Linked DNA regions of Homo sapiens: region 2 is linked to region 1. The links come from fine-mapping of genetic effects on gene expression. A gene starts in region 1. The other region holds a variant in brackets. All regions are shown on one strand. Distances are from middle to middle.

Region 1 (5,000 bases):
CTCCTTCCTCAGCCTTCCCAGTAGCTAGGATTACAGGCATGCATGACCAAGCCTGGCTAAATTTTTTTTGCTGATTTTTATATTTTTAGTAGAGATGGGGTTTCACCATATTGGCCAGGCTGGTCTCGAACTCCTGACCTTGTGATCCGCCCACCTTGGCCTCCCAAAGTGCTGGGATTACAGGCGTAAGCCACCACGCCCGGCTAATTTTTGTATTTTTAGTAGAGATGGGGTTTCGCCATGTTGGCCAGGCTGGTCTGGAACTCCTGATCTCAGGTGATCCTTCTGCCTAAGCCTCCCAAAGTGATGGGATTACAGAAGTGAGCCACCGTGTGGGCCTCAGCCATACAACTTTGACAAAGTTCTTTGTGTGTCTTCCCAGTCAATAGTGGTTTCTCCTTTATTCCTGTTCCCACAGACGCAATTCTGATTTTTTTCCCCACCTAAATTTTCTTTTTCTGTCGCCCAGGCTAGAGTGCAGTGACACAATCTCGACTTACTGCAGCCTCCACCTCCTGGGTGCAAGCGATTCTCCTGCCTCAGCCTCCTGAGTAGCTGGGATTACAGGCCTCACCACTGCACCCGGCTAATTTTATGTATTTTCAGTGGAGACAGGGTTTCACCATGTTGGTTGGGCTGGTCTTGAACTCCTGGCCTCAAGTGATCTGCCCGCCTCAGCCTCCCAAAGTGCTGGGATTACAGGCGTGAGCCATCCCGCCTGGCCATATATTATTGTTATTTTAGATAGGGTCTCGCTATGTTGCCCAAGCTGGACTCAAGCAATATTCCTGAATAGCTGGGACTACATGCAAGCACCACAGCACCCTGCCAAAATAGCTAAAAAATACACCTTCCTGTAACAGCTCTGATAAATATCTTTTACTTCGTTTATTTTTCTTTTTTGAGATGCAGTCTCCCAGGCTGGAGTGCAGCGGCATGCTCTCGGCTCACTGCAACCTCCGCTTCATTGCAACCTCTGCCTCTGAGGTTCAGGCGATCCTCCCACCTCAGCGTCCCAAGTAGCTGGGATTGCAAGCCTGCACCAACATACCCAGCTAATTTTTTTTGTATTAGTAGAGACGGGTTTTATCACCTTGGCCAAGCTGGTCTTGAACTCCTGACCTCAAGTGATCCGCCCGCCTTGGACTCCTAAAGTGTTGGGATTACAGGCGTGAGCCACCGCACCCGGCCTCTTTTACTTCGCTTAAATGTCCAATTTTAGTAGTAAAATCCCGGAAAATGTTTTTAGGAGTATGTTTAACTGAAAAGCTCATATTTTCTTTCATTTTTGGGCAATTCTTAAGGTAAGCAAACTAATGTTGCATGATAAAGCCCCCATCAAGTATCTCATACTTAAGCAAAGACCTCAAATCATTGTGGCTTTATTGCAGCTTTCCTTCAAAATATCATCTGTGACTGAGGAAATCCCTATCTTCCTATCAGACTAATGAAACCACAGGACAGCAATTAGACTTTTAAGTATTGGGGGTTTAGAGCTCTAGATATTCGATATGCAGACTACTCATGTTTGTTTGTTTTAATAAAGACTGGTCCAAAGGCTCATTTTCACACAAGCTACAGTTTTTCAGTTCCAGGACCAGGTAAAGATGGTCAGCTCCGTGATCCATAAAATCCAAGGGTGACGACTCAGGATTAGGACCATTTCTTGGTGACATTGAGATGGTCGAGCTGGTCCGCAATGAATCTATGCGGGGGGAACTTGGAAGTGGCGGCCGCCTTTATGGCCTCGAAGGCCTCCCTCCTGCGCACCGCGGCGTGGCCGCGCTCCTGCTCCCGGGTCATGTAGGGCATGCTCAGCCAGTAATGGTTCTCCGCCTCGATCTCCAGGCGGCGGATCATGTTCTGCTTGGCGCGCAACGACACGAACCGCGGCCGCCGGTGCTTCCCGATCCACTGACGGCCGGGAATGCGGCCGCGCCAGAGGAGCGCAGTCAGGAACATGGTGCCTGCGGAAGAGAGGGACGGGCTTTGCGGAGGCGAACTGGCGCGGCCGGACCTGGAGAGAGCAGCGGGCGCGCGCTCCAGCTCACGCCTACGGGAGTTCCCGCACCGCCTCCCCTCCAGAGAAGCGGGGAGCCCAGGTAAGGCCAGCAGGCGAAGAAGGAGCTCCCTAGAGAACCGAATTCGCACAGCTACTCACCTGCCGCGCTGCTCAAGACTCTGCGTCTCCGCGGCCGCCAGCAGACGCCGTGGCGTAAGCGCACCCGTCTCGCGGGGTCTCCTGGGGCCTCGGCGAGAGACTTCGGCTCTCGCGAGAGAGGACTGCGCCTGCGCAGAGCCGAGGACGCGTCCGGCGCCGAGATTCAAACTAGTGGCGGGAGGCTGTGAGCTGAGCGGTGGGGTCTGCGTACGCCTGGAGTCCTTCCCCGCTGTGCTCAGCATGGACCCTATCCGGAGCTTCTGCGGGAAGCTGCGGTCTCTGGCCAGCACGCTGGACTGCGAGACGGCCCGGCTGCAGCGAGCGCTGGACGGAGAGGAAAGCGGTGCGTGAGGCGGGCGGCCAGGGCACGGTGCGTGGGGTGCGCCGCGGGCGGAGGGGCGTGGCGAGTGGACGGTATGTCCCACGGGAACCGCCAGGCACTGACGGCGTGGACGGCTGCCACCGAGGCGCAGGGCGGGTGCTGCGCGTCTCACTGCTCGGCGTTTGGCGTTAGCGTAGCTCCCGGGCCTGTTTATGGTTTATTCCTAGGAACCCTTGTCGCGTGTCCGTTTTAGACCCATGTACAACCCCACGGCTCTCTTGAGATAATGAAAGTAGCACTATTACGTTATAAACAGAGACAGCAGCACTTAAGAATAAGAACCTAAATTAACAGATTGAGCTCATAATACATATACTAATTTATACGTGATATGCTTTCGTCACATACAATATGTGTGCTTGTCAGTAAAATACCATGTAAACCTAAACAGTTTCTCTTAGAATCAAGCTATTTAACGTTCTTTACACAATACTTTACACATATAGTGACTTTTTTCTCACTCACGTGGTCCACAGTTGCAGTAAACCTCTGTGTTTTTCCCGCTAAACCATGTTGCCAACACAAACACTAGTACTCAACAGTGCTGGGGTTTAAAAAAATATGTGTATATAAATAAAGCAAAATTCACCATTCCCCTTTTTATTAGAGATTTTTTAAATTGTTGAAAAAGTAGTTCAGATTTTGGAATTATTTCATAAATGTCATAATTGTAATGTGCTTTAAAATATTACACCCTGCAGACTACTTTTACTTTAATTATATAATGAATGATCTCCAGTCACTTGAAAATGTCTATTTCTGCCCGGCGCGGTGGCTCACGCCTGTAATCCTAGCACTTTGGGAGGCTGAGGCGGGCGGATCACAAGGTCAGGAGATCGAGACCATTCTGGCTAACACGGTGAAACCCCGTCTCTACTAAAAATACAAAAAATTAGCCGGGCGTGGTGGCGGGCGCCGGTAGTCCCAGCTACTCGGGAGGCTGAGGTAGGAGAATGGCGTGAACCCGGGAGGCGGAACTTGCAGTGAGCCGAGATCCGCCACTGCACTCCAGCCTCGGCGACAGAGCAAGAGTCCGTCTCAAAAAGAAAAAAAGATTTGGCCGTGCACGGTGGCACACGCCTGTAATCCCAGCATTTTGGGAGGCCGAGGTGGGTGGATCGCCCGAGGTCAGGAGTTCAAGACCAGCCTGGCCAACGTGGTGAAACCTCGTCTCTACTAAAAATACAAAACAATTAGCTGGGCATAGTAGTGGGCGCCTGTAATCCCAGCTACTCGGAGGCTGAGGTGGGAGAATCGCTTGAACCCTGGAAGCGGAGGTTGCAGTGACCCGAGATCGCGCCACTGCACTCCAGCCTGAGCGATCTTAGACTCCATCTAAGAAAGAAAAAACTATCTTCAGATGGTCATCAGGAATGTGAAAAGACATCAATTTCATTAGTCATCAAGGAAATGCAAATTTCATTAGTCATCAAGGAAATGCAAATTAAATCTCAATGTAGTACAGTTGCATACCCAGCAGGATAGCTAAAACGAAAAAGAGAAAATTACCAAGTGTTTGGAAAGATGTGGAACAAATGCGCTTTTTGTTGTTGTTGTTGTTGTTGTTGGAGCAGTACGCACTTTTTTTTTCTTTTTTTAAAATTATTATACTTTTAAGTTCTAGGGTACATGTGCACAACGTGCAGGTTTCTTACATATGTATACATGCACCATGTTGGTGTGCTGTACCCATTATCTCGTCATTTACATTAGGTATATCTCCTAATGCTATCCCTCCCCCCTTCCCTCACCCCATGACAGGCCCAAGTGTGTGATGTTCCCCTTCCTGTGTCCAAGTGTTCTCATTGTTCAATTCCCACCTATGAGTGAGAACATGCGGTGTTTGGTTTTTTGTCCTTGCAATAGTTTGCTGAGAATGATGGTTTCCAGATTCATCCATGTCCCTACATAGGACATGAACTTATCCTTTTTTATGGCTGCACATGGTGTATATGTGTCACATTTTCTTAATCCAGTCTATCATTGATGGACATTTGGGTTGGTTCCAAGTCTTTGCTATTGTGAATAGTGCGGCAATAAACATAAGTGTGCATGTGTCTTTATAGCAGCATGATTTATAATCCTTTGGGTATATACCCAGTGATGGGATGGCTGGGTCAAATGGTATTTTTAGTTCTAGATCCTTGAGGAATTGCCACACTGTCTTCCACAATGGTTGAACTAGTTTACAGTCCTACCAACAGTGTAAAAGTGTTCCTATTTCTCCACATCCTCTCCAGCACCTGTTTTTTCCTGACTTTTTAATGATTGCCATTCTAACTGGTGTGAGATGGTATCTCATTGTGGTTTTGATTTGCATTTCTCTGATGGCCAGTGATGATGAGCAGGAACAAATGCACTTCTTATGCACTGCTGGTGGGAGTGTGAACTGTAAAAATCATGTTGGAAAACTAGCAGTATTTACTGAAGTTGAGCATATGCATAACATATAATCCA
Region 2 (5,531 bases), 25 kb after region 1:
AGTATTATGTCAACTTACTTCAAAGGCGTAGTTTTGGGAATTTGATGCAGTAAAGATTACCCTGTTTTATGATTGTTCCTTGAAAGTCAAATGGGGGACCTGTCCATTGTGCTCTATTAATCTTGTCAGAAAACTGTCACCAAAACAAAACTTGAGTTTGTCCTTGTTCTAGGAGTTACTGGGTAGTTGTAAGTATTATTTTTATTAAATATAATGTAAAATAAAATGTTAAGATACTTAGTTTTGTTTTTCAAAGTAAAGCTGTAGTCAGCCTTATGTATGCCATTGACTCTGAAATGTATACCAGCCTTTCACTGTGTACCGTGTGTATATAAATCCACAGAACCGGATGAGCTGCTTAGGGAGGGAATATATTCAAAGTGTACCAAGGACCAAATCCTGGAGTTCTCCCAACTTTAGAGGATGGAAAGGGGCAGAGTAATCTAGCAAAGGAGACTGAGGCCAGTGAAGTAGGAAGAAAGTATTTCAAGGAGAGTGATGATTCTGTGAATATTGCTGAGAATTCAAATAAAAAGAGGACTGAGAACTGACTGTTGGGTTTGGCAAAGTCGATGTTATTGACAACATTGATTAATTTTGATGGAGTGCTGGTACTAGAAGTCTGTAGTGGATGGAAGAGAAAACAGCTGAGGAGGTAAAACAGTGGCTTTAGACAGCTCTTGAGGAGTTTTGCTAAAGAAGGGAGGCGAGAGAAGGTGTAGTAGCTAGAAGAGGTTATGTAGTGAAGAGGTTTTTTAAAGATGAGTGTATTAGTCTGTTCTCACGCTGCTAATAAAGACATACCCAAGACTGGGTAATTTATAAAGGAAAGAGGTTTAATGGACTCACAGTTCCACATGGCTGGGGAGGCCTCACAATCATGGCAGAAGGCAGAGGGGGAAGAAAGACACGTCTTACATGGTGGCAGGCAAGAGGGTATGTGCAGGGAAACTCCCCTTTATAAAACCATCAGATCTCGTGAGACTTATTCACTATTATGAGAACAGCATAGGAAAGACCCGCCCCCGTGATTCGGTTACCTCCCACTGCATCCCTCCCACGACGTGGGAATTACAGGGGCTACAATTCAGGTGACATTTGGGTGAGGACACAGCCAAACCACATCGATGGGCAATAAAGACTGTTAAGCATTTCTGATTATCTGCAAGGGAGCACCATTTGTTTAGTGGTGGCCCCTCAGTTTGTCCAAGTCATATTTCCCTAACCCTTACCACCTCCCTCCTGTAATCCTAGTTTCTGTTTCTTAGAACTGATGCTTCCAGCTTGTCAAGCTTCAAATATTGGGATCTTTCAAGTGTGTCTTCCCACGCCTCTTAAAATGAAATCCAAGATCCTTATTTTGGCTTACATGGCCCTACATGATTTGACCCCAGCTTGCTTCTCCGTCCTGCCCCTTGTGCTCCAGCCACACCACCCTCTTCCACTCCTCCGTACTTCCTGCCCCCGGGCCTCACACAGGCTGCTCTCATCCTGGAATACTTTTTCCCACCCACTGTGCTAACACTCCCTCATCCTTAATTGGTGGACACTTGATGTTTTTGTCTGCCCCCTAACTACTGCCCTTAAGAACTTACAGGCCAGCTCCAGGCTCAACCAAGCAACATCACAACTTCTGACCACACTGGTCAAGTCAGGTCAATGAAAGCCCATTCCGGGACTGGGGAAGTACTGGGAAAGAGCAGCACGCTTCTGGAGATAGAGGTACAGCTGGAGCCGTGAAGGGAGGGATGGCCTGTGGAGGAGCCCTCGCAACAGAGTTGAGGTGGTGTTGGAGCTCAAGGATCAGCTGGGCCTGAAGTCAGCCAGCTCTACCATGGACTTTTCTGTTAAATGATGCATAAACTCCTTGCTCTTGAGCCAGCTGGAGTTTTCTGTTACTTCAGACTTTGAGCCCTGGCTAATATGTCTCAGATTAAATATCATTTTATCAAAGACTTTACCTATTTTCCTGGTTTAAAAGAGATCTTTCCCCCTTAGTTCTTTCTCAGCACCTTATTCTCGTCCTTCATAGTATTTGGTAGAATTTAATTCTATTTAATAAAATATTTGGTTATACATTTATTTAATATTTGTCTCCCCCACTGGACCACAAAAGTTCAGTGAGGGCAAGGACCTTGTTTGCTTACTTTGTCCATTACCCAAGCACCTAGCAGTTTAAAAGGTTTATTGTGTGAATTAGTGATTACATCGAAGAGTTGAGATCTTACGATGCCAGGGATGGTTCTAAATGCTATACATTTATTAACATGTGTAATTAACTCTTTGAGGTAGGTACCTAATTTTTCAAATGGGGAAATTGAGGCTTTAATGATTAACTTTCCATGTCCGATTTCCCATCCCAAGTCTTGTTTGTTGCCAAGCCCTACGGAGGCTCCGTCTTTTAACATCTTTCTACCACTACCCAGATTCTCACCTAGATTATTACAATTCTTTAGAATTATCTGATACTCCTCTTTATCTGGAACTCCTGCCAAAGGTCAGTAGGTGAGTGCTTTACTGATTGTGAGCTCATCGTTTCCTCTTTTGTTCATGCTGTGCACTTTATTGGAGTGTAGATCCTACTCCACTTTTAGGAGTTGAACAGGCTTAAATGCCATCTGTAGAAAACCTTTCATTATCCTACCACAGTTTCAGTAGCACTTCTTTCTTGTGACATTTTTCTGTCCACCTTTTATCAATATTTGCACCTTTTCCTCCTTACTAGACTGTAAGATTTTGAGGAAGGATCTGCATCTGTGTCAAATCTTTGTATTGCCAGGTTCA[T/C]AGCATCTGGTACATAAAATAGGCACTCATCTAAAATTTTCAAGGATTTTTGAATATCCCTCAGAAGGTTCACTTCATTCTTTGTTTTGTTCTGTTTTGTTTTGTTTTTTGAGCCTCCCTGTGTTGCCCAGGCTGGAGTGCAATAGTGAGATCTTGGCTCACTGCAACCTCTGCCTCCCAGGTTCAAGCGATTCTCCTGCCTCAGCCTCCTGAGTAGCTGGGATTACAGGTGCGTGCCACCACATCTGGCTAGTTTTTGTATTTTTAGTAGAGATGGGGTTTCACCATGTTGGTCAGGCTGGTCTCGAACTCCTGACCTTGTGATCTGCCCACCTTGGCCTCCTCAAGTGCTGGGATTACAGGTGTGAGCCACCGCGCCCAGCCCACTTCATTCTTAAATTGCTCTAACTTCATCAAATTCCGTTTCCTTTTTTTTTTTTTTTTTTTTTTTTGAGACAGTGTCTCGCTGTCGCCCAGGCTAGAGTGCAGTGGTGCAATCTCTGCTCACTGCAACTTCTGCCTCCCAGGTTCAAGCAATTCTTCCACCTCAGCCTCCCGAGTAGCTGGGATTACAGGCATGTGCCACCATGCCTGGCTAATTTTTGTATTTTTAGTAGAGATGGGGTTTCACCGTGTTGCCCAGGCTGGTTTTGAACTCCTCAGGTCAGCTGCCAACCTCAGCCTCCCAAAGTGCTGAGATTACATGTGTGAGCCACTGCACCCGGCCAAATCCTGGTTAAATTTTCTCATGAGTTAGTTGTAACTGGGTTGACATGGTACCATGGGTAGAGCAGGAAATTCTAAACAGCTGAAGGCACAAATTGAAGAGGCTAGAAATACCTTCTTTCTCTTTAAAATAGCTTACCTTTACAGAATATTCACTGCCCACCAGGCTCTCCCCTAATTTCACTGACTCCTCCCCAAGTTTTATGAGGTAGGGATATCATTACACCTTCCTATAATAGTCTGCATTAACATTCCCAGGCTAAGGACTTTTTTGCTTATTGCAACTACTCTTTAGTATTAAAATTACTTTTATGTTTAGCTTATTTCCCCTAAGGATTTCTTAAGGGGGAGAATCCGTGATTTTGTCTTCACAGAATAGTTGCCTAGTCATGATTAATCCTTTCTAACAGAATAAACATAACTTCCTTCAAGCTTGTGCCATTGCAGACTCCAGGAAATTAGTTATTTGCAAAAGCAACCTATATTTAAGTAATAGAAGACAAACCAGAACAGGCAGACATCTGGCTGCTCTTAACACATTCAAAGTGGAAACTATGACCATGTCATATTTTTTTTTTGAGAGGCATTTTGAGTTTAAAAACTGAAGAGGTCTACTTTAGATAACCAGGCAAAAATTGCTACTTGTAGGGAATAACATCACTACAAGAATAGTGTGTCAGTGTAGTGTGGGTGGATGCCAGACTATAAGAAACTGAGTATGAAAGAACATTATTTCTGGAAATGTTTCAACTAATCCTCTATTTTTGGCTACCTAGGTCCAATGCCCCATTTTTGAGCTGTTAAAGTAGCCCCTCAATCTGGGCCTCATTGTCACCTATAAATAGCAACTATAGTCACTGTATCTCAGTTGTGGTTACATGAGGTAATGCTGGTAAAGTTGTTCCTCAGCACAGTATCAATGTTCCTTACTTAGGGGGTCATGTCTGGATAAACTCATCATGAGTTGAAAATATCCTAAGTCAGAAGTGCCCTTTCTACTTATAAGATGTTCAGTTGGCAGCTGGTTTATTGGGATGTAGCCCCATAATAAGCTGAGGACCGTAGTGAATGGCTTATCGCTTATGCGCCACTGCAAAGCTGAAAAATCTAAAGTTGAACTATCATAACTTGGGAACCATCTGTGTTTGGCACAAGTAAACACTTAAATCATAGTTACAAACTTGATTTAGAGTGTTGCCTTCTATTTCACAAAAACAAGTCTGAAATGTGTTTAATTGAACAAGAAAGAGGTGCATCAAGTTCAGCTCCTTATTATGTTCAACTTTAGAGAATTTTAAACCTAGCCTAATAATGTTTCTTTCTACATTCACACCTGCCCCTCACATGCATACAACCGATACCTAAAACATTACCTGAGTCAATGATCAGCTGGGCATAACCGTCCCAGTTTTTGTACACCGTGAAAAACTAAAAAGACATTATAGGCAATATCATGTACTGTAACACATATTCCAAAGGGAAAACGTCAATTCCAAAATACCTAGGAGCAAATGAGGCAACCAGGGCAGACACTAAAGCACTGAGCAAGATGCTGTCATGATGACTACTTATTTATTTCTATTTTATATGCGGGGAAACAGCTCAGTTATTACTCAAAGCCACACTTACCAAAGCCAGAGGTAAACTAGTACAAGTCTTTTGATTCTTAGCATTATATTCAATAAATTCACTAGGTATTCTCTAACTGTACTTTTGATGGGATATTGAAATCTTTAAAGGAGAAATTCCATGTTGGAACCAAGCAAAGGGTGGAATTTGACAAAGCAGCCCAACCACTTTGGCTTACAAAGTCCTTTATTTAGTTCCTACCCTCTTCATCTGCATAGTAAATCATAGGGTTCCCCCCCACCCCCACCACGAATAGCAGTTAATCATGGCTATTCTCCAAAAAGCTAGGTGCAAATTAACTTTATGGCTCCAGTCTATCTAATCTGAATGAATAAACAACCTAAAGGTTTGGGGTAAACCACAGCACAGAAGAAGCACCAGATCTAGGCTCC

Which allele goes with the higher level. Positions count from the first base shown, and alleles are read on the strand shown. Sizes are in standard deviations (SD) of each study's normalised expression.
In carriers of allele T in region 2, the expression in fibroblasts of the gene that starts at base 2,327 in region 1 tends to be higher than with C alone (small effect, 0.17 SD a copy in GTEx).

What was found. PIP is the estimated chance that this variant, and not a neighbour inherited with it, causes the effect. A credible set is the group of variants that fine-mapping cannot tell apart.
Region 2: its variant is the best candidate, but not a certain one, in a credible set for the expression of SKA3 in fibroblasts (GTEx, PIP 0.70).

The regions. Positions count from the first base shown.
Region 1 is chr13:21,173,879-21,178,878 of GRCh38, reverse strand. It overlaps SKA3 (spindle and kinetochore associated complex subunit 3), which reads left to right and starts at 2,327. Exons shown (of 9, transcript NM_145061.6): 1 at 2,327-2,504. The coding sequence starts at 2,402. MRPL57 (mitochondrial ribosomal protein L57) reads right to left here and starts at 2,221. Exons shown (of 2, transcript NM_024026.5): 1 at 2,162-2,221; 2 at 1-1,967. The coding sequence starts at 1,962. The coding sequence ends at 1,654. RefSeq lists enhancers at 1,752-2,071, 2,087-2,809, 3,532-4,254.
Region 2 is chr13:21,148,615-21,154,145 of GRCh38, reverse strand. SAP18 (Sin3A associated protein 18) reads right to left here. Exons shown (of 4, transcript NM_005870.5): 4 at 5,049-5,531. It overlaps SKA3 (spindle and kinetochore associated complex subunit 3), which reads left to right. Exons shown (of 9, transcript NM_145061.6): 9 at 1-551. Among named protein-coding and RNA genes, the nearest start is that of SAP18, 11 kb to the right of the region's middle. The variant T/C (reference allele first, on the strand shown) is at 2,785.